Regions from separate parts of the Homo sapiens genome. Here regions 2 and 3 are each linked to region 1. Evidence: fine-mapped expression QTL. A gene starts in region 1. Each other region holds a variant in brackets. All regions are shown on one strand. Distances are from middle to middle. Region 1 holds the start of KLB (klotho beta). Region 2 overlaps LIAS (lipoic acid synthetase). Region 3 overlaps KLB (klotho beta).

What was found.
Region 2: its variant is fine-mapped to the expression of KLB in cerebral cortex (GTEx, PIP above 0.99). The same link has a PIP of 0.9 or more in cerebellar hemisphere and cerebellum.
Region 3: its variant is fine-mapped to the expression of KLB in testis (GTEx, PIP above 0.99).

Annotation. Positions count from the first base shown.
Region 1 is chr4:39,403,315-39,411,500 of GRCh38, reverse strand. It overlaps KLB (klotho beta), which reads right to left and starts at 4,571. Exons shown (of 5, transcript NM_175737.4): 1 at 3,727-4,571. The coding sequence starts at 4,551.
Region 2 is chr4:39,466,558-39,474,743 of GRCh38, reverse strand. LIAS (lipoic acid synthetase) reads right to left here. Exons shown (of 11, transcript NM_006859.4): 7 at 7,098-7,226; 8 at 4,580-4,725; 9 at 3,438-3,508; 10 at 1,533-1,644. Among named protein-coding and RNA genes, the nearest start is that of LIAS, 12 kb to the right of the region's middle. The variant C/T (reference allele first, on the strand shown) is at 3,123.
Region 3 is chr4:39,443,790-39,451,975 of GRCh38, reverse strand. KLB (klotho beta) reads right to left here. Exons shown (of 5, transcript NM_175737.4): 4 at 4,501-5,644; 5 at 443-3,675. The coding sequence ends at 3,290. Among named protein-coding and RNA genes, the nearest start is that of RPL9, 11 kb to the left of the region's middle. RefSeq lists an enhancer at 4,658-4,847. The variant G/A (reference allele first, on the strand shown) is at 5,010.

The DNA of each region.
Region 1 (8,186 bases):
CATTCTATTTCAAATGCTGTTAAAAACAGCTTTGACGGGAGACTGAGGCAGGAGAATGGCGTGAACCTGGGAGGCGGAGCTTGCAGTGAGCCGAGATAGCGCCACTGCACTCCAGCCTGGGCGACAGAGCAAGACTCCGTCTCAAAAAAAAAAAAAAAAAAAATCAAAACAAAACAAAACAAAACAAAAAAAACCTTAGTTTTGAGGCCGGGCGCTGTGGGTCGGGAGTTCCAGACCAGCCTGACCAACATGGAGAAACCCCGTCTCTACTAAAAGTACAAAAAATTACCCAGGCGTGGTGGCACTTGCCTGTAATCCCAGCGACTCGGGAGGCTGAGGCTCCCGCTTGAACCCGGGAGGCGGAGGTTGCAGTGAGCCAAGATTGTGCCACTGCACTCCAGGCTGGGCAACAAGAACGAAAACTCCGTCTCAAAACAAAACAAAACAAAAACAAAAACTTAGAGTTGGTTCATCCATTAGTAGGTGTGATTATGGAAAATTTTTACCTGAGTCTTAGACCCGCATTAAGGTACTCCCTACATCTGCAATAAAGTGGAATCTAAATTGCAAGTCAGCCTTGGGACCCTCTGGACCATTCAGGTTTCCTCCAAATGGGAACATTTCAAACCGAGATGGAGTTTTCCAGATCATTCTGGAACGAAAAGGACCCCAATAGCCACTATGAAACCTTTTCTCTATCTGAGAAGTGGGGAATGAAGGGGTCCATACCCCCCCAGAATTCAGTTTTATATTAGGCTTGTGTAGCTCAATAAATGTTTTCGGTCTAAAAACTATTCCTAAAGAATGCTTCTTCTGGGTCACAAGGGGGCAGGAGAAGGAAGAAATACTTCATTGCAACGTAAAATATCAAATTAATGTTTTCTACGTGAAAGTCAAGACAGCGAGGGGACAAGTGGGAAAAACAAGTTCACCTCAGGCTACCAAATCATTGCAAGATTTCTTTAGTGCTATACGTCACTGGGTCATGCAGTGTATTTCACTTTCTGACTGATTTCAAGGACCCCTCACACCATTTATTTAGTCTAGTGATTTAGAACTTTTAAGGCAATACAAACATTATTTGGAAAACACAATAGTTGAAAAACATATCCCTCCATTTAAAATAATAAAATTTATCTCACGATCATAAAGTGCTAATTTTGTGTTAAAGGCAGAGAATATCTCAAATTAGAGGAAAATGAAAACATCTGAAAATATGTCATTTTATCAACTATGTTTGGAAGCAATATCTGTTAAAGCTTTTTGCCTGTTTATTCTTATCAGCCAATTTTAAGGCTTTAATCCTTAAAATACATTTTCATGAAAACTCTAATTGTTGACATTTTTCCAGGTAATGACTTTTCAACAATTTAGAATATTTTTCTTTATACAAAGGTTAAATAAACATATTCATGCATGTATTTGCATAGAAAACTTTAAAAAGAATGTATAAGAAACTATTAACAGTAGCGTCCTTGGCCTGGGATTGTCAGGTGAAGAGAGGGAGAGGGATTTAACTTTTTCACTTTAGATCCTTTGGTACAATGTGATATTTTTATTTTTTATTTATTATTTTTTTGAGACAGAGTTTCACTCTCGCCCAGGCTGGAGTGCAGTGGCGTGATCTCGGCTCACTGTAACCTCTGCCTCCCGGGTTCAAGGGATTCTCCTGCCTCAGCCTCCCGAGTAACTGGGACTATAGGCACGTGCCACGACGCCCAGTTAATTTTTGTGTTTTCAGTAGAGAGGGTTTCACTATGTTGGCGAGGCTGGTCTCAAACTCCTGATCTTGTGATCCACCTGCCTTGGCCTCCCAAAGTGCTGGGATTACAGGCATGAGGCACTGTGCCCGGCCCAATCTGATATTTTTAAATGTACATGAGCATGAATTGTTTTAAAAATTAAAAGGACTGGCTGAGCGCAGTGGCTCACACCTGTAATCCCAGCACTTTGGGAGGCTGAGGCAGGTGGATCATGAGGTCAGGAGTTGGAGACCAGCCTGGCCAACATAGTGAAACCCCTCTCTACTAAAAACACAAAAATTAACTGGGCTGGTGGCATGTGCCTGTAGTACCAGTTACTCAAGAGGCTGAGGCAGGAGAATTGCTTGAACCTGGGAGGTGGAGATTGCAGTGAGCCAAGACTGCGCCATTGCACTCCAGCCTGGGTGACAGAGTGAGACTTTGTCTCAAAAAAAAAAAAAAAGAAAATTAAAAGGACTAAATGAGAGGAATATTTTTCTAACTTTTGTATGCATAATCTTGATAACTGTTAAATACCTATACAATTTCTACCCTTTAAGGTCTTATTTTGTCAAATCACAGTATACCCACACATTAATATGTTCTATATACAACTCTAGTCAAAGATATGCAAATGACCTTGAAATCATAATGCAATCTGTTTACCTCAAGGGCAGATGTATCTGAAACCATAGTACAATGCACATGTGTAATAATCCAGAAAAGTTCAAAAAGAAAAGAAGTGATAGCAGATATTTTTGTATGTACAAATTTAGACATGGAATTATTTTATGTTGCTGTATTTTTTTTCTACTTCTGTATATTTAGCTTTTGATTATTAATAATTAAATTACTTTTTGTAGCACATTATAAAATTATATTGATAAAGTTTTTTCATTTTTAAAATGTAACAGGTGTGCAGAATAATTTATTTTTCCTAAGTAAACTATTTGACTCAAAAAGTTAAATTCGATTCTAGATATTAGCCTCAATGTGAGGCTAAATCTCTTGCAAATTCCTGAGTCTTCTTTTCAAAGCATTCTTAATGAAGACAGTTAGTGTTAATTATGTTGTCATTTAAAAAATCCATGTCCACAACAGCTGTATTTTACTCCTTAACCTTGGGAAAATTATTTAATCTCATTAAGCTTCAGTTTCCTCATCTTTTAAATGGGAAGAATAATAAAACTAGTTCAAAAGGCTGTTAAGAGGATCAACTGTAACGATGCATGTAAAATACTTAATGTAGTCTGTGGTACATAATAAGTACTCAGTAATTATTACCTATTATTTTGCTTGTATTTTCACTATTGTTTTACTAATTTTAACATTTCTCAACATTATCTCTAGCTTTTGAAATATATTGCTTGAAAATTGCTTTAGTAGAGCACATTCTTCCCAGTTCTTATGGGAAGAAATGTGTTTAGCTCCCATAACAATTAATCTTCTCTTTTTTGCTATGTAACACAAATAAAATCAAAAGTGAAGTATATTTAAATTTCTGTATTTAATATGCATGAGTTAGCTAACATTTATTTGGCTTACTTATTTACTTACTTTATTTACTTATTAGCTAAGTTAGCTATACTTAACAACAAATACATATTTGAAATGGTTGTGCCTTAAGATAATTCTGAAATGATTGCATGTTGTCAGAAAAGGGTTCCAACAATTAAATTTATGAAGCACTGTTTTCCCACAGAATGAAAGTAAGCTCATATATTCACACTGTAGTGTATAATGGTAGATTTAAAAATAGCCTCAAAGTGCAACTTTTGAAAAAACTAATTGGATTAATACATTAAAAATACCTTAGATAAATAAAACATACACTAACTTAAATGCAAAATTTGAGGATAGATCTTTTGAATTAGCTTAAAATCAGTTGCCTTGATTTCAGTGAAGAGAATTACTGAGGCAGAAGGTAAATTCTTAAATTCTTAGTGTTTTCTGAAGCTATAAGAAGAAGCTAGCTGTACAGTACCTTGATCAAGTTGTGTCCCACAGTGTAGACAGCTGCTAAATTTCCCTTCTCTCCAGGGGCATGCATACCTGTCCCATACCCATGCCAAGCCACTAGATATGGGTTGTGAATTGTAATCCAATATTTGACACGGTCCCCAAACATCTGGAAACAGTATGTGGCATAGTCATTGAAGATATCTATTATGGTATCATTTTTCCACCCCCCATATTTTTCTTGTAGTGCCAAAGGCAAATCCCAGTGGTATAAAGTAACTATAGGTTCAATGTTTCTAAGCACTAGAGCGTCCAGAAGAGTACTGTAGTACTGCAGACCTTTTGCGTTGGCAACTGTTACTATTCCATCGGGGAAAAGCCTTGGCCAGGAAATTGAAAATTGATAAAAAGAAACTCCTATAAAATCCAGGGCTGATAAGTCTTTTTCCAGAAAAATATAACTGTCACTGGAACCATTCGTGCTGCTGACATTTTTAAGGTGTGTGTGGATGAAATGATCCCATATAGAAGGTCCTTTTCCATCCTTCTTCCAACTCCCTTCCACTTGCAATGCTCCAGTCCCAATACCCCAGAAAAAGTTTTTAGGGAAAGTGTCATAGAGAAACAGCTGACTTTCATTTACCGGAGTAAAATTAGGATTTTTAGACCATATAGCTCTTCCATCTCCAGAGAATCCAGTAACAGCTCGTAGCAGAATAAGTGCTGACAGGATGACAGATCTTTGCAATCCCCCGTTGGACATTGTATTCCTATAGCGTGTGGTTATTTCATCAGTGCTGAAGAAAATCCATTCATTCCCTGGAGATCCTGCCGCACAGCCTGGCTTCATTTGCCACCAACTGCTGGACTGTCTTATCAAAGCTTCAGTAAAAGCTTGTGATTGTAAAGCTCTGTCAATGATTAGCTTGAACTGGGAGACTGAGGATGGGTCATAGAGAGCAACGTAATTTGAGGGAGGTGGCCCTATTGCAGTCACCAACGCGTCTCCTTCTCTCTCATTATGGAAAAAATTAGATGAAAATGCATCGGTGACAAGAGTTTGAATGTGTAACTAACACATATGTAAACACTGGATTAAAATCACATTATTTTCCGTGTAGCCTTTCATATTGACCCAAATCTTTTCTGAATGTTTTGAACATTATTGAATAAGGTATATAGCTTTTCTATTTTTAGAGTTTTTGTGTGGTAATTTTATAATCTCATATATCAAGAAAAATAACATATACAAGTATATAGCATTCCTACATACCAATAGTAAAGAATTAGAAAACACAATAAGAAATTACACTTCTCCACAAAATTATAACGCATCTAAGAACAATCTTAATAAATGTTACCTATTTTAGGAAAATTGCAAAAATGTATTGGTAGATTTGAGAGAAGACTTGAATGAGAAAATATAGCACTTTGTGGATGGAAAAATGAAATACTTTTCAATTTAATACATTTAACTTAACTAAAATCCTCTAATCTCTAATTTTATTTTTTATTTTATTTATTTAACTTAACTAAAATTCTCTAATCTCTAATTTTTTAATTAATTAATTAATTTTTAATAAGAGTCTTGCTTTGTAGCCTAGGCTGGAGTGCAGTGGTGTCATCACAGCTCACCGCAGCCTCAACTTCCCAGGCTTAAGCAATCCTCCCTCCTCAGCCTCCAAGTAGCTGGGACAACAGGCACATGCCACCATGCCCAGCTGATTTTTGATTTTTTGGTAGAGGTGGGGTCTAGCTATGTCCCCCAGGCTGGTCCTGAACTCCTGGGCTCAAACAGCCCTTCTGCCTCGGCCTCCTAAAGTGCTTGGGATTATAGGTGTGAGCCACCATGCCTGGCCTAATCCCAAATTTTAGTTCAAGAAAATTATTACGAAAGGCCAGGCACAGTGATTCATGGCTATAATCCCACCACTTTGGGAGGCCAAGGCAGGCAGATCACTTGGGGTCAGGAGTTTGAGACCAGCCTAGCCAACATGTTGAAACCCCGTCTCTATTAAAAATACAATTAGCTGGGCACGGTGGTGGGCACCTGTAATCCCAGCTACCTGGGAGGCTGAGGCAGGAGAATCTCTTGAACCTGGGACGTGGAGGTTGTAGTGAGCTGAGATCGCACCACCGCACTCCAGCCTGGGCAACAGAGCAAGACTCGGTCTCAAAATAAAAAAAAAAAAAAAAAGAGAAAATTATTATGAAAGTTCCCTTGAAGAATAGGCAATATTTATTTTTAAAAAGGAAAGAAAAACCTGAAAAAGAAAATAGCAAAGGCATAGACTACCTTCAGCATGATTCTGGAATAAAGATAAACATACAGAAAGAAATACATGCACATACAGAAAGAAATATTGTACCAAATCGATAGCCTCCAAATAACCTGTAAAAAATTTAATGTTTTACAGCCTGGGGAACATAATAAGGCCCCATCTCTACAAAAAAAATTAAAAACTAACCGGGTGTGGTTGTGCATGCCTGTAGTCCCAGCACTTTAGAAGGCCAAGGTGGGAGGATTGCTTTGAGCCCAAGAGGTCAAGACTGTAGTGAGCCATGATTGCACCACTGCACTCCAGCCTGGGTGACAGAATGAGACTCTGTCTCAAAAAATAATAAATAAATAAATAAATAAATGTTTTAAATATTTGAAGTATCACATATGAATGAGAAGCAGAGTGGTTAATAGTTTGGTCTCTGTGCCAGATGAGGTGGCTCACACCTATAATCCCAGCTACTTAGGAGGCTAAGTGGGGAGGACTGCTTGAGGCCAGGAGTTTTGAGACCAGCCTGGGCAATATAGTGAGACTATCCTCACCTCTAAAAAAAGATGATTGAGGCCCGGCACAGTGGTTCGCACCTGTAATCCCAGCACTTTGGGAGTCCGAGGCGGCTGGATCACCTGAGATCAGGAGTTCGAGACCAGCCTGACCAACATGGTGAAACCCCATCTCTACTAAAAATACAAAATTAGCTGGGCATGGTGGCACATGCCTGTAATCCCAGTTACTCGGGAGGCTGAGGCAGAAGAATTGCCTGATCCCGGGAGGTGGAGGTTGCAGTGAGCCGAGATCGCGCCATTGCACTCCAGCCTAGGCAACAAGAGCAAAACTCTGTCTAAAAAAAAAAAAAAAAAAAAAAAAAAAAAAAAAAAAAAAAGAGAGATTGAGCCTCTAGAGGCAGACTGCCTGAGTTTAAATATAGCTGTGTAACTTGCCCTCAGTTTCCTCTTTAAGAAAAGGCATAATAATAATATGCACTTCATGGATTATTGTGAGAATTAAACGAGTTAATACACTGAACCAAATGGTTTTCTCTGGAATATAGAAACGAATGAGCCAGTACATGTAAGGCACTTGGAACAGAGACTGACACATAGTAAGTTATGTGCTAATATTATTTTTGTGTGAAAGGGAAAGATTATTCAGGACATGATGCCAGGATTTAGCATAAAAGACAATTTGTTCTGGCTCCTGCCCACATTTTTAGCTTCACTTCTCTCAGTTGACTAAGGGGTACACAGCCTGCTAACTTGTAGCCCTGTACCTTGGTATGTGTGCTCTCTGCACAGAGTATGTTTCTCCCTTCATCTAGCTCATGTCTATCTTTTTTTTTTTTTTTTTTTGAGACGGAGTCTCACTCTGTCTGCCAGGCTGGAGTGCAGTGGCGGGATCTCGGCTCACTGCAAGCTCCGCCTCCCAGGTTCACTCCATTCTCCTGCCTCAGCCTCCTGAGTAGCTGGGACTACCGGCGCCCGCCACCACGCCTGGCTAGTTTTTTGTATTTTTAGTAGAGACGGGGTTTCACCGTGTTAGCCAGGATGGTCTCGATCTCCTAACCTCGTGATCCGACCGTCTCGGCCTCCCAAAGTGCTGGGATTACAGGCGTGAGCCACAGCGCCCGGCCGTCTTTTTTTTTTTTTTTTTTTTTTTAACTTTTAAGTTCAGGGACACGTGCAAGTTTGTTACATACGTAAACTTGTGTTATGGGTGTTTGCTGTATGGATTATTTCAGCAGGCAGGTATTAAGCCTAGTACTCATTAGTTTTTTTTTCCTGATCCTCTCCTTCTTCCGACCCTCCACCCTCTGATAGGCCCCAGTGTGTTATTTCCCTCTATGTGTCCAGGTGTTCTCATCATTTAGCTCCCACTTATAAGTGAGAACCTGCGGTATTTGGTCTTCTGTTCCTGCATTAGTAAGGCCTTTCTGACTCCCTATGACTCCCTAGCCTGATTGGATTTAGATGGATCTTCTGTTTTCCCATGGCAGCCCATGTTTTCTCTATTATGACACACAATAAATCAGCTAACCACACAATAAATGTATCTGTATCCTCTGTTTGAGTGTAAGTTTTCTCTCTCTCTCTCTGTTTCTCTCTCTCTCTCTCTTTTTTAAAAACCAAAACAGGGACCATGATTGGTTCCCTGTTGATTGTCTGTGGCCCAGCATGGTACTTGACATATAGCAGTCACTAAAGTA
Region 2 (8,186 bases), 63 kb before region 1:
GGCACCTGTAGTCCCAGCTACTCAGGAGGCTGAGGCAGGAGAATGCCGTGAACCTGAGAGGCAGAGGTTGCAGTGAGTCAAGATTGTGCCACTGCACTCCAGCCTGGGCGATGGAGAGAGACTGCATCTAAAAAAAAAATAATAATAATAAAATAAAAAATAAAGAGATGAGATCTCACAATGTTGCTCAGGCTGTATTTGAACTCCTGGGCCCATGCGATCCTCCTGCCTCGGTCTCCCAAGAAGTTGGGACTATAGGCACACACCACCACACCTGGCCTAGCTGTTTCTTTTTTTTATTTTATTTTTGAGACACAGTGTCTTGCTCTGTCACCCAGGCTGGAGCTGTAGTGACACGATCATAGCTCACTGCATCCTTGAACTCCTAGGCTCAAGTAATCCAACTGCCTTCCAAAGTGCTGGGATTACAGGCATGAGCCACCTTGCCTGGCCTATTTATTCTTTTTTTTTTTTTTTTTTTGAGACAGAGTCTTGCTCTGTTGCCCAGGCTGGAGTGCAGTGGCACAATCTCGGCTCACTGCAAGCTCGGCCTCCTGGGTTCATGCCATTCTGCTGCCTCAGCCTCCCGAGTAGCTGGGACTGCAGGTGCCCGCCACCATGCCCGGCTAATTTTTTTGTATTTTTAGTGGAGAGGGTTTCACCGTGTTAGCCAGGATGGTCTCGATCTCCTGACCTCGTGATTTGCCCGCCTCAGCCTCCCAAAGTGCTGGGATTACAGGTGTGAGCCACCCCACCTGGCCAGCCAATTTATTCTTAATCATTATAATTGTTAAGTCCAACTGACAGGGACATCATAAACACTTTCTAGATTAAATTCGGTCTTCAGATATGTTCTTTTGGATCCTCCGACAATCATTATCACATGACTTTTTATCCCTTGGAAAATGATTTTCTTTTCATAAATCAATTCAAGCTATTGATTAAAATAAGAGCTGAAATTCCAAAAGTAAAAAAAATTTGCATTGTAGCTAGTAAAACAACTAAACGTTCCTACGGAGAAAAATAATCTTATGGATATTTTTCTGTTGCCTCTGGGGGAAAAATACAAAGAAATTTAATGATGCAAGCAATGCTATCAAATAAGATACTTTTCAGTGCTTAAACTGATTGAAACTGAGTCTGGAGATGCAGCTGGCATCATTTCCAAATAAATATGTATTTCTCAGAAAACCCTATTAGATGCTTGACATGCTCTGTCATTTCTGAATAACCTACTACTGAAATCTACACATAGAAAAAATTAATAAACTAATTGTTTCTGCTTTTACTATAGTAGCTGAGTTACAAAGCAGGGGGCTGAATTTGTTTAAGAAACAAAAGATTAAGAGAAACTTTTCTTAATATGATCCCCATGGAGCAAAGCTCCTAAGGATGTTCCAGAAGAAAAACTACGCCCTCTACCAAGACCACCAAAGGTATTAGAATTTGTCAAGAGTTTTAGTGACTGGTGGTAGAACTTAATGTGGAAAGTTAACGGCCTAAATGAAACCATGCCCCACAATCTAACTTACCTGCTTTATATGAAGAACGCACCAAAGGGCCACTTGCAGTATAATGAAATCCAAGTTCATTTCCTACTTTTTCCCAGTATTTGAATTTTTCAGGAGTAATATATTCTTCAACCTAGATTTAAATAATTACTTCTGATCAGATTTTAGAATTCCACTTTGATTCTGCAGAAAGTCTATACCTATGTATGCAGAATGCTCTTCACTGCGTAATTTATCTTGCCCCCACCCCCAGGCTTTTGTCCTCTCCCTCCTCCCTGACTACGTGTTTACTGGTTACTTTTTGGCCACTCTATTGGGATGTAAATACAGGGAATTACAGAGACAGGGAAGCATATCAATTTTGTGCTACAATGGCTATTCCAAAGGACAGAGAAAGAAGAGATTATCTACAGATATTATTTATCTATATTTTTCCTTCGTTAACAGCTAAATTCAAGAATTACTCATGCTTATCTGATTCTTGAGGACAAGACTGTCTTACTCAACTTGTATCTTCTGCTTAGCACTGTGACTGGCACATGGTCACTGCTCAACACAAGCTTCTTGAATGAATGGATAAATGTCCATGATAGAAATAGAAAGAATGGTTTCCCATTCTTTCTTCGCCTCTGGCTCTAACATAACAAAAACAAGTTACACAATAACCAAGTGTAAATGAGTGCCATTTCCCAACTTTTAAATTCTTTTTCTCTAGGTTCACTTGAGTTGTGAAATTTGTGAAGAGAATGGGGGAGGCAGCAAATATGTGCAAACGTAGCTGATTTATGTAGATAATAAAATGAAAACTGGGACTTATAAGAATACAGCTGAGCCTTGAACAACATGGTAACTGCACAGGCCCACTTATACAAGGATTTTCTTCCATTTCTGCCACCCCTGAGACAGCATGACTAACTCCTCCTCTTCTCCCTTGTCCTCATCTACATGAAGATGATGAGGATGAAGACCTTTATGATGGTCCACTTCCACTTAATGACTAGTAAATATATTTTCTTTTCCTTATGATTTTCTTCAAAAAATTTTTTCTCTAGCTGACTTTATCATAAGAATAAGATGTGTATATATGTGTGTGTGTGTGTGTGTGTGTATATGTGTGTGTGTATATACAGATATACACACACACATACGTATATATATAAGTACATGTAACATACAAAATGTGTGTTAATTGACTGTTATTGGTATGGCTTCCGGTCAACAGAAGGCTATTAGTAGTTATGTTTTTTTGGGAGTCAAAAGCTATACATGGGCTGGGCGCAGTGGCTCACACCTGTAATCCCAGCACTTTGGAAGGCTGAGGCGGGTGGATCACCTAAGGTCAGGAGTTCAAGACTAGCCTGGCCAAAATGATGAAACCCCATCTCTATTAAAAATATAAAAAATTGGCTGGGTGCGGTGGCTCACGCCTGTAATCCTAGCGCTTTGGGAGGCCGAAGCGGGTGGATTGCCTGAGCTCTCAGGAGTTCGAGACCAGCCTGGGCAACATGGCAAAATCTTGTCTCTAAAACTACAAAAAAATTAGTCGGGTGTGGTAGTGTGTGCCTGTAATCCCAGCTACTCAGGAGGCTGAAGCATGAAAATCATTTGAAC[C/T]TGGGAGGTGGAGGTTGCAGTGAGCCGAGATTGCCCCACTGCACTCCAGCCTGGGCGACAGAGCGAGACTCCGTCTCAAAAAAAAAAAAAAAAAAAAAAAAAAATTATATATATGTATATTTTAGCCGGATGTAGTGGCACCCGCCTGTAGTCCCAGCTGCTCAGGAGGGTGAGGCAGGAGAATCACCTGAACCCAGGAAGCAGAGATTACAGTGAGCCGAGATTGTGCCACTACACTCCAGCTCAGGCGACAAGAGCAAAACTCCATCTTTAAAAATAAAAAAAAAAAAAAAAAGCAAATCAAGATACATGTACCTTAAGGTGACGCCTTGTTGGCTGCATATATTGTCCTAAAGTCAAGCAGTCTACATCTGCCTCACGAAGTGCTGTAGGAAGAAAAGCACAAATTACATTAGCAAATACTTTAATTGTAGATCTAAGCATAATTTTCCTAAGGAATATTTAAAAACGGTGTGAACTTTATGACAGTCCATAATCTTCATGTTGGGGAATAAGACAACATCTATTCATTCAAAAGTATTATGTGCCAGGGACTGTGGTAAGGACTGAAAACAATAATAATTAAGACAGTCATGTAGGGCTGATACATACAAGGATAAATACTTCTAATACTATGGAATCAATGCTAAAATAGTAGTGGAGGGTATTTTAGAGTAGGAGTCTGGTAGAAAAGGTATGGGAAATGGTATATGCAAAAACCTCAATGCACCTATATTATAGAGCAAATATGTTGCATTAGGCTTTTACTCAATGCACAAGATATGCTATGGGGGCTGTGATTTAAACTATGACATATCAGAATCTTTCTAATAAACTGTGTGCAATGTGGTAAACAGCAGGTCTTGATTATTATATGAACTTATTACTCTTTGAACCACTAAATAACTACAAGTAGTCCAAGGGTCCTCAGCTAAAATTAAAACTTTGAAATTCCAAAGTTTAAAAAGTCCAAGAATCACAAAGCAAATGGACTTACGGGACTAAAGTTCAGCAAAGTCCAAAGCACACCATGTTATGTGACAATGCTACAAGTAAGCTCTTTCTCAGAGGCCTGGATTAGTCTCATTGATCTATGAACTGTCAGTGCCTGGTACCAGGCTGGCTCTCCAAAAGTGTCCAATGATAGAATGAGAAAAGTGGATGAAATCATGCTTTCAGTGGATGCAAAGGATGGGGAATAAAATGGGATATAAATTTTGTATCCTGAGCGTCATGCATATCACTCCATGAAATTCCAAGAAAATTTATTTCCTTTGCTTTTTTTTTTTTAACTTGTATTTTAGATTTGAGGGTGCATGTGCAAGTTGGTTTCCTTTTCATGCTGCCATCTATAACCATATACTTTTCTTTGTTCTTAGAAGGGCCTTCAAAGTGAGTGGGTTCCTGCTATTACTCAAATTACATGGGAAAGATTTTTCATTTTTCAATTTCTTTACCTTTCATTGTTGCATATACTTGCTCATCATTCTCGCCTAAACCCAACATTATAGATGTTTTAGAAATAACATCAGGCTGAACCTTCTTGGCATGTTTCAGTACACGTAGGGACTGATCAAAATTGGCCCGAGGATCACGAACCTTACTGGAAAACAGCAGGACTGTTGTCAGCAAGAATTACAAGTTCAACCAAGTACATAGTTATGCAAGCAACCTGAAAGACCAGAGAAGTACATTCTGCACATTATCTTAAATCACATAGTTCAAAGGTAGCATTTATGCACAGATGCCTGTTAATTTAGGAAAGAAAAGGCCTCACTGGGCTCCCTAGTTCTATCTCAAGCCTGGGGCAGAGAAAAGTAGAATGGAAGAAATTACTTCAGTTTATGCATTGAGAAACCAGAATTCTGAAGCGAAAAATTAGAAGAGAAAGGAAAAAAAGCAGAAGTAAGAGAGTCTCCATACTGAACAAAGAAAAAAATAAGCTGAACCCACATGTCAGAGGGTTGAAACTTTCAAGTTCATTTCTTTTCTGAAGACTAAGCTGCCCTCTGCTGGTAAGTATACAACACTGCCACATATTAGGTAAAGAAATGCATGATTCTGGAATTTTCACTGGAAAGGATCATGTTTTTAAGTGAAACCAGGGAAACTGGCACCCACTGGTGGTGGTATCATGATGAGGTTGGAACAGGCTGTGTCCTAGACTTCAACAATGGCCAAACCACCATGGCTTAAATGACTTATCCTTTAAGCCAAAAGGCCAGAAAGCTTCTGATGTTAAACTGGATTTCATTTCAATTCTAATGCAGCTTTATTTTCTGTAATTGTTTTTCATTGGAGACTAGTTAACAGGAAAGAGAAGAAACAAATTTATGAACTTAAAAGTAACTGAAACTGACATTATAGAAATCACTTTTTAACAGAATTTCTCCACTGAAATTAAGTTATGGTCTCTACTGTTTATGATTTAGTGAAAATGGTGGTTATTGTTTACTGTAACTTCTTTCAGGCTCTATGACACAGATCATATGTAGAAGCTAATAAAATCACTGCTAAATGCTAAAATTAAAGAAAAAAATGATATTACTCTTGCCCGAAGCTTAAAATGTTCATTTTTCTAAAATTTGAATGGATGTGGATAACAATCCTTACTTTTTTTCTTACATCAGTGTTACTTGCCAATGATTAGTCTTAATTACTGAAATTATTAGGAATAAGAAAGCATAGTGTCTACTTTTTTTAAAAAGTACATCTGAATGATATGAGTTTTTTTCTTTTTTTTTTTTTTTGAGACAAAGTTTTGCTGTCGCCCAGGATGGAGTACCATGGCACTATCTCGGCTCACCGCAACCTTCGCCTCCCGGGTTCAAGCAATTCTCCTGCCTCAGCCTCCAGAGTAGCTGGAATTACAGGTCTGCACCTAGCTAAAATTTTTTGTATATTTAGTAGAGATGGGGTTTCATCATGTTGGCCAGACTGGTCTTGAACTCCCAACCTCAGGTAATCCGCCCGCCTCGGCCTCCCAAAGTGCTAGGATTATAGGCGTGAGCCACGAGTTTTTCTTCTGCATCATTTATTACACATATTAGTGCTGAATATATATATATAAATATATATGAATATATATAATATAAAAAAATATATATATATATATATATTTTTTTTTTCCTTTCTCTTTCTAGATGGAGTTTCGCTCTTTTTGCCCAAGCTGGAGTGCAATGGCGCAATCTCACCTCACTGCAACCTCCGCCTCCCGAGTTCAAGTGATTCTTCTCCTGCTTCAGCCTACCGAGTAGCTGGGATTACAGGCATGTGCCACCACGCCTGGCTATCTTGTATTTTTAGTAGAGACGGGGTTTCTCCATGTTGGTCAGGCTGGTCTCGAACTCCCAACCTCAGGTAATCTGCCTGCCTCTGCCTCCCAAAGTGCTGAGATTACAGGCGTGAGCCACAGCATCCAGCCAAATATATTTTTGAAGTCTTTTCTTTAGAATTACAACCAAAGCAATTGCTCTAGTGTAATTTTTTCCCTCCTTTGAAAACTTTATTTGTGGGGAGGGGGAAACAAACAACTTATTGAAATTTGCAGTATGATATTATTTTAAAACAAAAGAAAAAAGATGTTAATTATTTGTGGGTATTAAAACACACACAGTAACTTAGTAATATGAGTTACTAACATCTTAATGTTTGTAATATAAAAATTAAGTATATTATAAATATAAAAATACAAATATGTAGTATAAATATAGTGTTTATAATATAAACACTAAGGTGTTAGTAACTGATATTGCTGGGTGGAAATACTATTATGGGTGATATTTATGCTGATTTTGTTGGTGATATTTTCTGATTTTTATGTAAGAGACATAGATTGAGTTTGCCTAAAAAACAAAAAAGAATAGAGTTTACTTTGTAAAAGTCAATGGCAAAGTTCAGCCCTGGAAAAGGCAAGAATATATGGCATATTTTGACCCGCCTAACTTCCCAACATTACTTTGTACACGTATTCACCTCTGTAATTCCGGGACTGTTTCTACATTATGTGCATACACATCTAATCCTGACAGAGCAACTTTTTCTATTGCTTTGAGATCACCTCGAAAATCAGGAGTAAGACACTCCACAAGGATTTTTGGATTCCTAAGGGGAAAAGAGAGAATTATCAAACAGAGAGAAAGAACTGACATACCTGTTCCTCAAAATAGAAATTATCAGTAATCGTTCAGTATGCTTCAACACAGTAACCTTTAGAACTTTGTCAAGAAAAGTATGAACATACAGATGTTCATACATGAACCATTATTAAAAAAAAAAAAGCAGACCGTTAAATACTATGTACACAGTGGTTAAAACACACCTGTAGGCAAACTGAATAAAATTTCAAATTATATATAGTAGACTTTTAAACCTAATTTAAGTAGGTTTTAGAAAAAGTAAATAATTGCAAGAAACTAAAATATGAAATATTAAAACATTAAATATAAAACTTTACTCATTGGAAAGTAAATTGAAGTATTTCTTATATAAATGTGAGTATTATTTGATTGCTTTAATTTTGATTTCTTTAAAAAGTCATCAAATCATGCTCTCCTCCCTTCCTCTAGGCAAATATTTCACAAGTGCTACGGGTTTTAAAAACTATTTTCTGGGTTGCTGAGTCATGAGCTTTGTTAAACGAAGTACGAGCTAAACATTAATCTTCCTATTTATATTGTGGCTATATCTATTCATCCAAGTATTATAATGTGAACTGGGTCACAGAGCTGTTCCCTTTGACACCAGCAAAAACGACTGAAACAGCTGACACATTTTTTCACAAACCCACTGGCAAAGTGTCTGGAGTTGTTCCCTGAAAGAACAGATGTAGAAAAGACCACATGTACACCCTTATCATGAATATAAGAGATATTCAAAGAACATATCCTATAATTTTTTTTTTTTAAATAAAAACAGGGTCTTGCTCTGTTGCCCAGTGCATCATAGCTCACTGTAACTTTAAACTCCTGGGCTCACGCAATCCTTCTGCCTCAGCCTCCCAAGCAGGTAGGACTATGGGCACATGCTACCACATCCAGCTATTTTTTTTTTTTAATTTATTTT
Region 3 (8,186 bases), 40 kb before region 1:
GATGTAGGTGTCCACATATTTTTGAGACGGGGTCTCTGTCACCCAGGTTGGAGTGCAGTGGCGTGATCTTGGTTCACTGCAACCTCTGTCTCCCAGGCTCAAGCAGTCCTCCCACCTCAGCCTTCTGTGTAGCTGGGACCACAAATACGTGCCACCATGCCTGGCTAGTTTTTTGTAGAGAGGGTTTTGCCACGTTGCCCAAGCTGGTCTCAAACTCCTGGAATCAAGCAATCCGCCCACCTTGGCCTCCCGAAGTGCTGGGGTTACAGGTGTGAGCCACCACACCTGAGCCACATTTTTTGAGAAAATATACCCAGAAGTAACATACCAAGTTGGTGCACAACTAGGCAGAAAGGGATTCAGGGGAGGCAGTCTTGGGGCAGAGCCCATTTACAATGCCAAACCCATTCACATTCAACAGTTCTTAAAATTGACCAGGTTGTTAGTTGAATACAAGTGGTCAGCATGAACCAGTTTATTTGGAATAAATTACATTGAAAATTAAACATGTAGTCACACTGTACTGGCCTCATTTTCCAGAGGCTCTTTAAATATAGTTGTGATTCTCCAGGTTGTTACATTGAATATACGATAAACACGTTAGATTTTTCACAACACATCTCAGAAAAGCTTAAACTCCAAAGATCTTACCTGTTTGCTCCTTTCAAGAGTTATCAGTTTCTGGTTGACCTTTGATGGTTTTTAAGGAGTTTATGATAAACCTGAATATTTAGTATGATAGAGCATGAGCCAGATTAAATGCTTAACCTAATTTGCTGTACATATTTGCCAGTGGTTAAAAAATTTAAGGGTTTTTGGATTCTTGTGCGATGATGGCTTAAAAACTAGTAAAATAATGCCCAAGTGGCAGAGAAGGAGGACTCTCAGTACTGGGTTAGGAATTTTATTACTTAGGGGAGTTTATGGTAAACCAGCAAGTTAGAAAAGGGGGGCATGCTTTAAGCATAAGCTCTTAATGTGAAAGAGACAGTGAAGGTTAATTTGTGAACTGTGAGTACGAGATACTTTAAACAAAGTGAGAAAGAGAAAGCAAAACCTGAAAGATAAATTCCAGGTTTTTGTTATTCCTGTGGCTAACCTTTTTTTTTTTTTTCCCAAGCCCTTGATGTTAAAGAGAGGTTAATGAGTTGCCCAGTTGACATTAAAGAATTTTCCCTGGAGTTCTTGGGTCAGGGTGAATCAATGTGGCACAAAGGGGAAAAAACCCAGCCAAGTGATTGTTTTAAGTGACTTACTGTTTCTACATAGTTAGAGTAATAAAAACAGAATTGACTAGTTGTATGCGTGACCTTAGGTACATAGTTCTCAGAGGGAGATGTTAATACTAAAAAAATTCCTTGAAAATCATACCTCAAAACTGCCAACTTTGGGGTAGTGGGTGCAGCTGGGGCAAGGAGACTAGAGAAGAGTAAAGCAGAATTTTACTGTTCCCATTTGCCAGGCCAAATAGCAAATTGATTTCTCATCATATTTGCATTTACTCAAATTGACTAATTGTATTTTTACAGTATTTTGGAAACTTGTTCATTAGCAGTTAGATACTGAATTTAGCTTCAGACATAGGTGGACCTAGAATATAATCAAAACTGCCTTAATTTACTAAGGCTTTGTAACAGAAGAACGTCTCTTGTGACTGTTAAGGTCTAAATTGCTGGAGTGAGCAGACAAGGACAAATTAATGTATGCAGTGGGTGTTAAATGTTGACCTAAAGAAAGAATAGGTATAAATAGGTGCATATTTAAGTTTTCTTCCTCAGATGTTTAAAATACACTGAACAAGTCTCAAGAACAGAGTTCATTTCCCAAAGTGTCAAATTATCCAAGTCAGATCTAGTAATTAACCCTAGCCCAAAAGGGTGCTATATAAAACAATTTAAACTCATTCAGTATTCTGAATTGTTGCTTTACTTACAGTATAGCAACTTCTATTCACAGAGTTGAGTCTAGCTTTCCTTCATCCTGTGATCTTTCCATGAGATGAGGTTTTGGAAATTACTTTTATTTTTATTTTTATTATTTTTTTTTATTTTGAGAGACAGTCTTGCCCTGTCCCCCAGGCTGGAGTGCAATGGCACGATCTTGGCTCATTGCAACCTCTGCCTCTCGGGTTCAAGCGATTCTCCTGCCTCGGCCTCCTGAGTAGCTGGGATTACAGGTGCCCACCACCATGCCCGGCTAACTTTTGTATTTTTAGTAGAGATGGGGTTTTGCCATGTTGGCCAGGCTAGTCTCGAACTCCTAACCTCAGGTGATCCACCTGCCTTGGCCTCCCAAAGTGCTGGGATTACAGGCGGTGCCACCGTGCCTGGCCGGAAATTACATTATTTTAAAAAATCAGATCTAGTAAAAGATCACAAATTAGATATTCTATAGGTGATTTTTTGTTGTTAGAAAAATGAAGGGCTTGATCCTCTTTAAGAGTCTGTGTTGTAACTGGCTTAGACAAGCACTACTTACCCTATTGTGTTTTCTTTCCATTTTAGAACCACCCTGACCTAAAGGAGAAGGCACCTTATTAGAAGTGACAGAATATATATTATCTATCACTGACTACCCAGTTTAAAGAAGGGTGTTAAATCTCTGCTGTAGAGTCTAACAAAACAAAGTTTTGCTTTTGCTTTTTTTTTTTTTTTTGGACACAGTCTTGCTGTTGTCGCCTAGGCTGGAGTGCAGTGGCGCAATTTTGGCCTACTGTAACCTGTTTCCTGGGTTCAAACTTCTGCCTCAGCCTCCCAAGTAGCTGGGATTACAGGTGCCACTGTCACCACGCCTGGCTAATTTTTTGTATTTTTAGTAGAGACATGGTTTCACCATGTTGGCCAGGCTGGTCTCGAACTCCTCACCTCAGGTGATCTCCCCGCCTCGGCCTCCCAAAGTGCTGAGATTACAGGTGTGAGCCACAGCGTCCAGCCCCAGAGTTTTACTTCTTAAAAATAATTTATTGTACCACAAGTAGCTATTGGTAGAGATGAAAGCTAAAGCAGAATGATGGAATACAGTTGATGAAACTTTAAGAAGCAATGTAGCATGTAATCCTCATAGCTTACTGTCAGGATGAAGCCTTTATGTTTACATCCAAGAACTGAGTTCACTGATGTCAACACCTAAGGGAATGTTCTTTGAACCACACAGCAGAGACAATTGTCATCACCTTGGTTACAGCTGTATCTCAGATTGTCTTTCTATAATACAGGTATATCTCCTGTAAGTTACCAGCATATGGAACTGGGATGAATTTTTAAACTGTCTATCATGCAGACAGATCAGTTTAGCTAACAACTCTCTTGCCTTTCTTTAATGGTATGTGTTGTAAGTTTTTTGCTTTCCAAAACTTTCTTCTCTTCTGCCTTTGAAAAATGGCAATTGATAAGAGTAGAACCAGGGTGGAGAAGAAGCAACAACCCAGGAATATCAGTGGTTTCTTCTGCACAAGGAATAAGCAGACAGTGCACTCTGTATTTTCTTGGGTCTGACTGCATCTAGAACTACTGTTCTCAAAAGGGAAGCCCCTGCTGCTGATCACTTTGTTGTAAAATTGTATTGAGGATTTAGCTTTAAAATCAGATGTGAAGAATCCAAATCTGGGTTTAGATTTCTCTTCAGCCAGTTTGAATGCATAATAGCCTTTGATTCTGACTTTATCAATCAGGTATGCTGAAAAAGATAAGAAATTAACATTAATCACAAATGGACTATGAAGTATCTTTGAGGAAGAATTTAGTTTTCATTGAAACAAGCTAAAATTATGCCCATAATAAAGGTAGTGATTTTTATTAGAGGGTTTTTTTTGACATTTATTCTTTTATGATCTATGTAAAGGAGAAGGTGAAAATATGTATAATTTAAGTCTGAAAAATTTGTAGTGAAACTTGATCCATAAATAATCCAAAAACTCTTGGAGGAAAAAGCAAATTTAAGGAGCAGAGCAATGAAGGTTGTCACTTTTGTTTAAAGGGTCACAAGCAGAAAAACGTTGCCTATTTGGCCTGATTGTGAACCTCAGATGTGCTCTTGGTGCAGCCCAGGAATCACAGTTGGTTTTACCCACTCACTCACTGTCGCTCGCTTAAGCTACCATGATGTGGTTATTTCACATTGCATGCTTGTATCGAAACATTTCATGCATCCCATAAATTTATACACCTGTTTACCCACAACCATTTTTTTAAAGCCTAGCAAGCATGGTGAAAATAAGTAACCCAAAATAGTGACTGTTTATCCTGGGGAGTGAGATTTCAGGTGATTTTTTAAAAACTTCTCCACGTGCCCAGTTTTCTATAATTGGTGTGTGTTACTTTTATGATTTTAAAATTTTTTCAAAAATCCCATAGGCCAGTTTTCAGGACAAAATTCAATTGACAGGACTTGGGTGCCACAAATTGGATGCTGTCAGGCACCAGCCTGCTGCTCCCATTCTTTGTTCTTGTCAGGTAACAGGAATCTCGCTCTGCCCTGTGTCTGAAGGGGCCCCGCCCTTACCTTTCAGCACCTCCTGAAGGTACTTCCCTAGGTAGTACTTCCGGAGCCGGTCATCCTCCAGAGCCTGGTCGTCGATGCCACTGGCGGTGATGTAAATGTCCATGTCGCCGTAGTTCCTCCGGACCCACCGCAGCAGCTTGCGCACCCCCCAGGGAATCACAGCCAGGCGCGTGGGGGAGCTCAGGCGGGTGATGTCCTGCAGAAACTGGATGTCCCTGTCCGAGTCGTAGCGGCTGCCGGCCAGCTGCTCGTGCATCACGAACCTAGTGGTGAAGTGGTTGAGCGCGCAGAAGTCGACCGTGCCCTTGAGCAGCCTCCTTTCGGCCTCGGTGAGGCGCGGCAGGGCCGAGCTGGAAAGCCCCCGTCGGTGCTTGGAGGCAATGTATTCCCTCATGGCCGCGGGGTAGTCCCCGGTCTTGAAGAGCGGCTCGGCGAACCAGGCGATCTCGAACTGCAGGAAGCGCTCGGCCGCCCTCCAGTGCGAGTCAGCATAGGGGTTGGCGGGTTCC[G/A]CCCAGTCCGCGTGCAGCGACAGCGACACGGCCCCGCGCTGTGAGGGCCTGAACTGCCGGTCGTAGAGGCGCCAGGCCAGGGCGTGGGCCACCAGCAGGTTGTGCGCCGCCCCGTAGGTGTCGTTGCCAGAGCGGTTGTAGATGTCACTTAGCCGGTTAGGCTCGTTGATGGTGATCCAGAGCTTCACCAGGTCCCCCAGCTCCTGGAAGCACAGCCCAGCGTAGGCCTGGAAGGCCTCGGCCGTCGATGGGTTCAGCCACCCGTCGGCATGCAACAGAGGCTCGGGGAGGCCTAGGTGGGCGTGGGTCGGATAATACAGGGTGACCATCGCGGAGATGCCAAGCTTCAGCCCCTCACTGACCACGCACCTGTAGTACCTCAGGGCCTGTCGGTTCACCGCGGACAGGTTGCCAGTGGGAAGGACCGAGGCCCAATCCAGAGCAAACCGGTAGTGGGTGACTTTCATTCTTGCCAACATCTCAAGTTGTTTTTTGATGTTTACAAAATCTGTGCATTGAGCGGGTCGTGTTTTCAGCCTCACCCCTTCCACTCGGTGCAACAGTCTGTTGCCAGTGGCGTTCCACACGTACAGATGAGGATCGCTGAACTGTGGGGACGAAGCCACAGACTCGGGCTGTGAAAAACAAGCTCATTTAGGTCAAGCATGCGCTGGCAGATGGAGGCTCAAGTGATCTGCCTACCTCTGCCTCCCAAAGTGCTGGGATTACAGGCCACCACGCCAGGCCTATTCCAGCCCTTGAAATCTCCCAAGGAGACCAGAAAACAGAGAAGGAGCCACACCCAGGTCCTGGCTTGGAAAACAAGTTGTTTGAGAAAACATTGGGAAGCCATTTTCCAGTTCATTTAACTTTAAACCCTAGGTTATATATGGTGGGGTTTGAAGTGATTCTGTTCAAATGCATCAGGAAATTGGCTTGGTACACTCAATTAAAAGCAATTACAAAAGAGATTCTAAACCCTGCCATAAATTGAAGACAAAGTTGAAATTCCTGTTGTAGAGATTTCACTGAGAAGAGGAGGTTGACCCCAGGCACAATTCCTTAAAAAGGCTGGTGCGGTGGGGTAGGCAATGACCCCTTGCTTTTGCTGAATGCAAATTTCTAACTTGTATTTAAAAAATCCAGGCCGGGCGCGGTGGCTCATGCCTGTAATCCTAGCACTTTGGGAGGCTGAGGCGGGCAGATCACCTGAAGTTGGGAGTTTGAGACTAGCCTGACCAACATGGAGAAACACCGTCTCTACTAAAAAAAAAAAAAAAAACAAAAAAACAAGATTAGCCAGGCGTGGAGGCGCATGCTTGTAATCCCAGCTACTCTGGAGGCTGAGGCAGGAGAATCGCTTGAACGCAGGAGGCGAAGGTTGCAGTGAGCCGAGATCATGCCATTGCACTCCAGCCTCGGCAACAAGAGCAAAAACTCCATCTCAAAAAAAAAAAAAAAAGAAAAGAAAAGTTCAAGTGATAACACATTTGCATCCATCATGTCTCCCCGACCCATGTGCCTGTGAGAACATAGCATTTATTCATCCAACAGATGAATAAATGGGTTATGGGTGGAAAGGACAGTAGACTATCCCTAGAAACTCCCAAGGTTGACACTTGGATCTGACAGAGTCTCATTCTGTGTCTCTCCACGAAGGAGAGAGCCCTGGACTCCTGTTCTAGTTCTGCCCCTTTGAAACTCAGGCTTGGCAACTATATAGTGACGGAGTAATCGCACCCACCTCACAGGTGTGCTGTGAGGACTCAGTGACTCTGGGAAGGTGCTCTGGGAACTCTAAAGCGCTATACAAACACAATGTAGTCATGACTTGGGTTTCATTTTCCCTAGTGGCAATAATTGCCTGCTAGGCCCTTGAGTCCAAACTAAAACAAAGCCCTTAAGAAAAACATTCCCAAATTCAAGATTAATAAGGGAAAGTAAAAGTTAAGTACTTGTTTTAAAGTACTTCTTTTTCCCCTCATGACAGAATTTAAATACACCAGGAAAAAACTATAATTAACCTTTGGTAAATATCTTCCCTCTAATTGTTTTTTCGTGTGTCATCTTTCATAGTTTAATTACAAAACCATATCACTGCCCGTTTGCCATCTGCCAACCAGTTATCTAGAACATTAAACTAAGAGAACATTGATCATGTGAGCATGAAGTTAAATCCGTATATAATTCATTATTTGAGTAAAATCCTCCTAGCCTAGATGGCCAGTTTTAATGTTTTGAAAACTCAGAACATCATGGTATTGAAAGGATGTTTATAAAAGGCAGTCTTGCTATGGGGCAAGGCAAGATCAAATAAAAATGTCTTACGTTAAAAACCTTCAGAAAGCATTAATCTCAGCAAGTGTGTATGATTAGTCTGCTAAGAGGTTAATTTTCTAGTTAAAGATGATGCATCCCAATCCCAACCCCAGCTCCCAGAGCTTGTTTCTAAAATCCTATTCCCCACCAAAAGGACCTTGTACTCCTTGGAGAAATGGCTTTTTCCAGGAGAAGAATGAGATGAAGGTGGGCATCTTGTGCCAGAAAATAAGGAAGTGCTTAAAAACTGAAAGGGAAATGTGGAAAAGACAGAAACAGCTTGAGGGGGTCCCATTGACTAAATTTGAAACAACTTGAGCATCAAAAGGAACAATATCATAGTGACAATAATGAATTATAAAACATCATCCAGCTAATAAATGTGGAGGGAATAATCCGATTAGAAATTTACCATTTTGCAATTTACAAAGTAATGATTAAGGCAAGGTTCATGAAAGAATGTTTTGTTTGTTTGTTTGTTTGTTTATTTGAGACGGAGTTTTGTTCTTGTCGCCCAGGCTGGAGTGCAATGGCGCGATCTTGGCTCACTGAAACCTCCGCCCCCCGGGTTCAAGCGATTCTCCTGCCTCAGCCTCCTGAGTAGCTGGGATTACAGATGCCAGCCACCATGCCTGGCTAGTTTTTGTATTTTTATTAGAGACGGGGCTTCACCATGTTGGCCAGGCTGGTCTTGAACTCCTGACCTCAAGTGATCCACCCACCTCGGCCTCCCAAAGTGCTGGGATTACAGGTGAGCCACTGTGCCCGGCCCGGTTCATGAAAGAATGTTAAAACCATGGAGTGAAATGTTGTTGAGGAATAGGATATTCATAGAGTCCCAAGTATCAACATCAGATT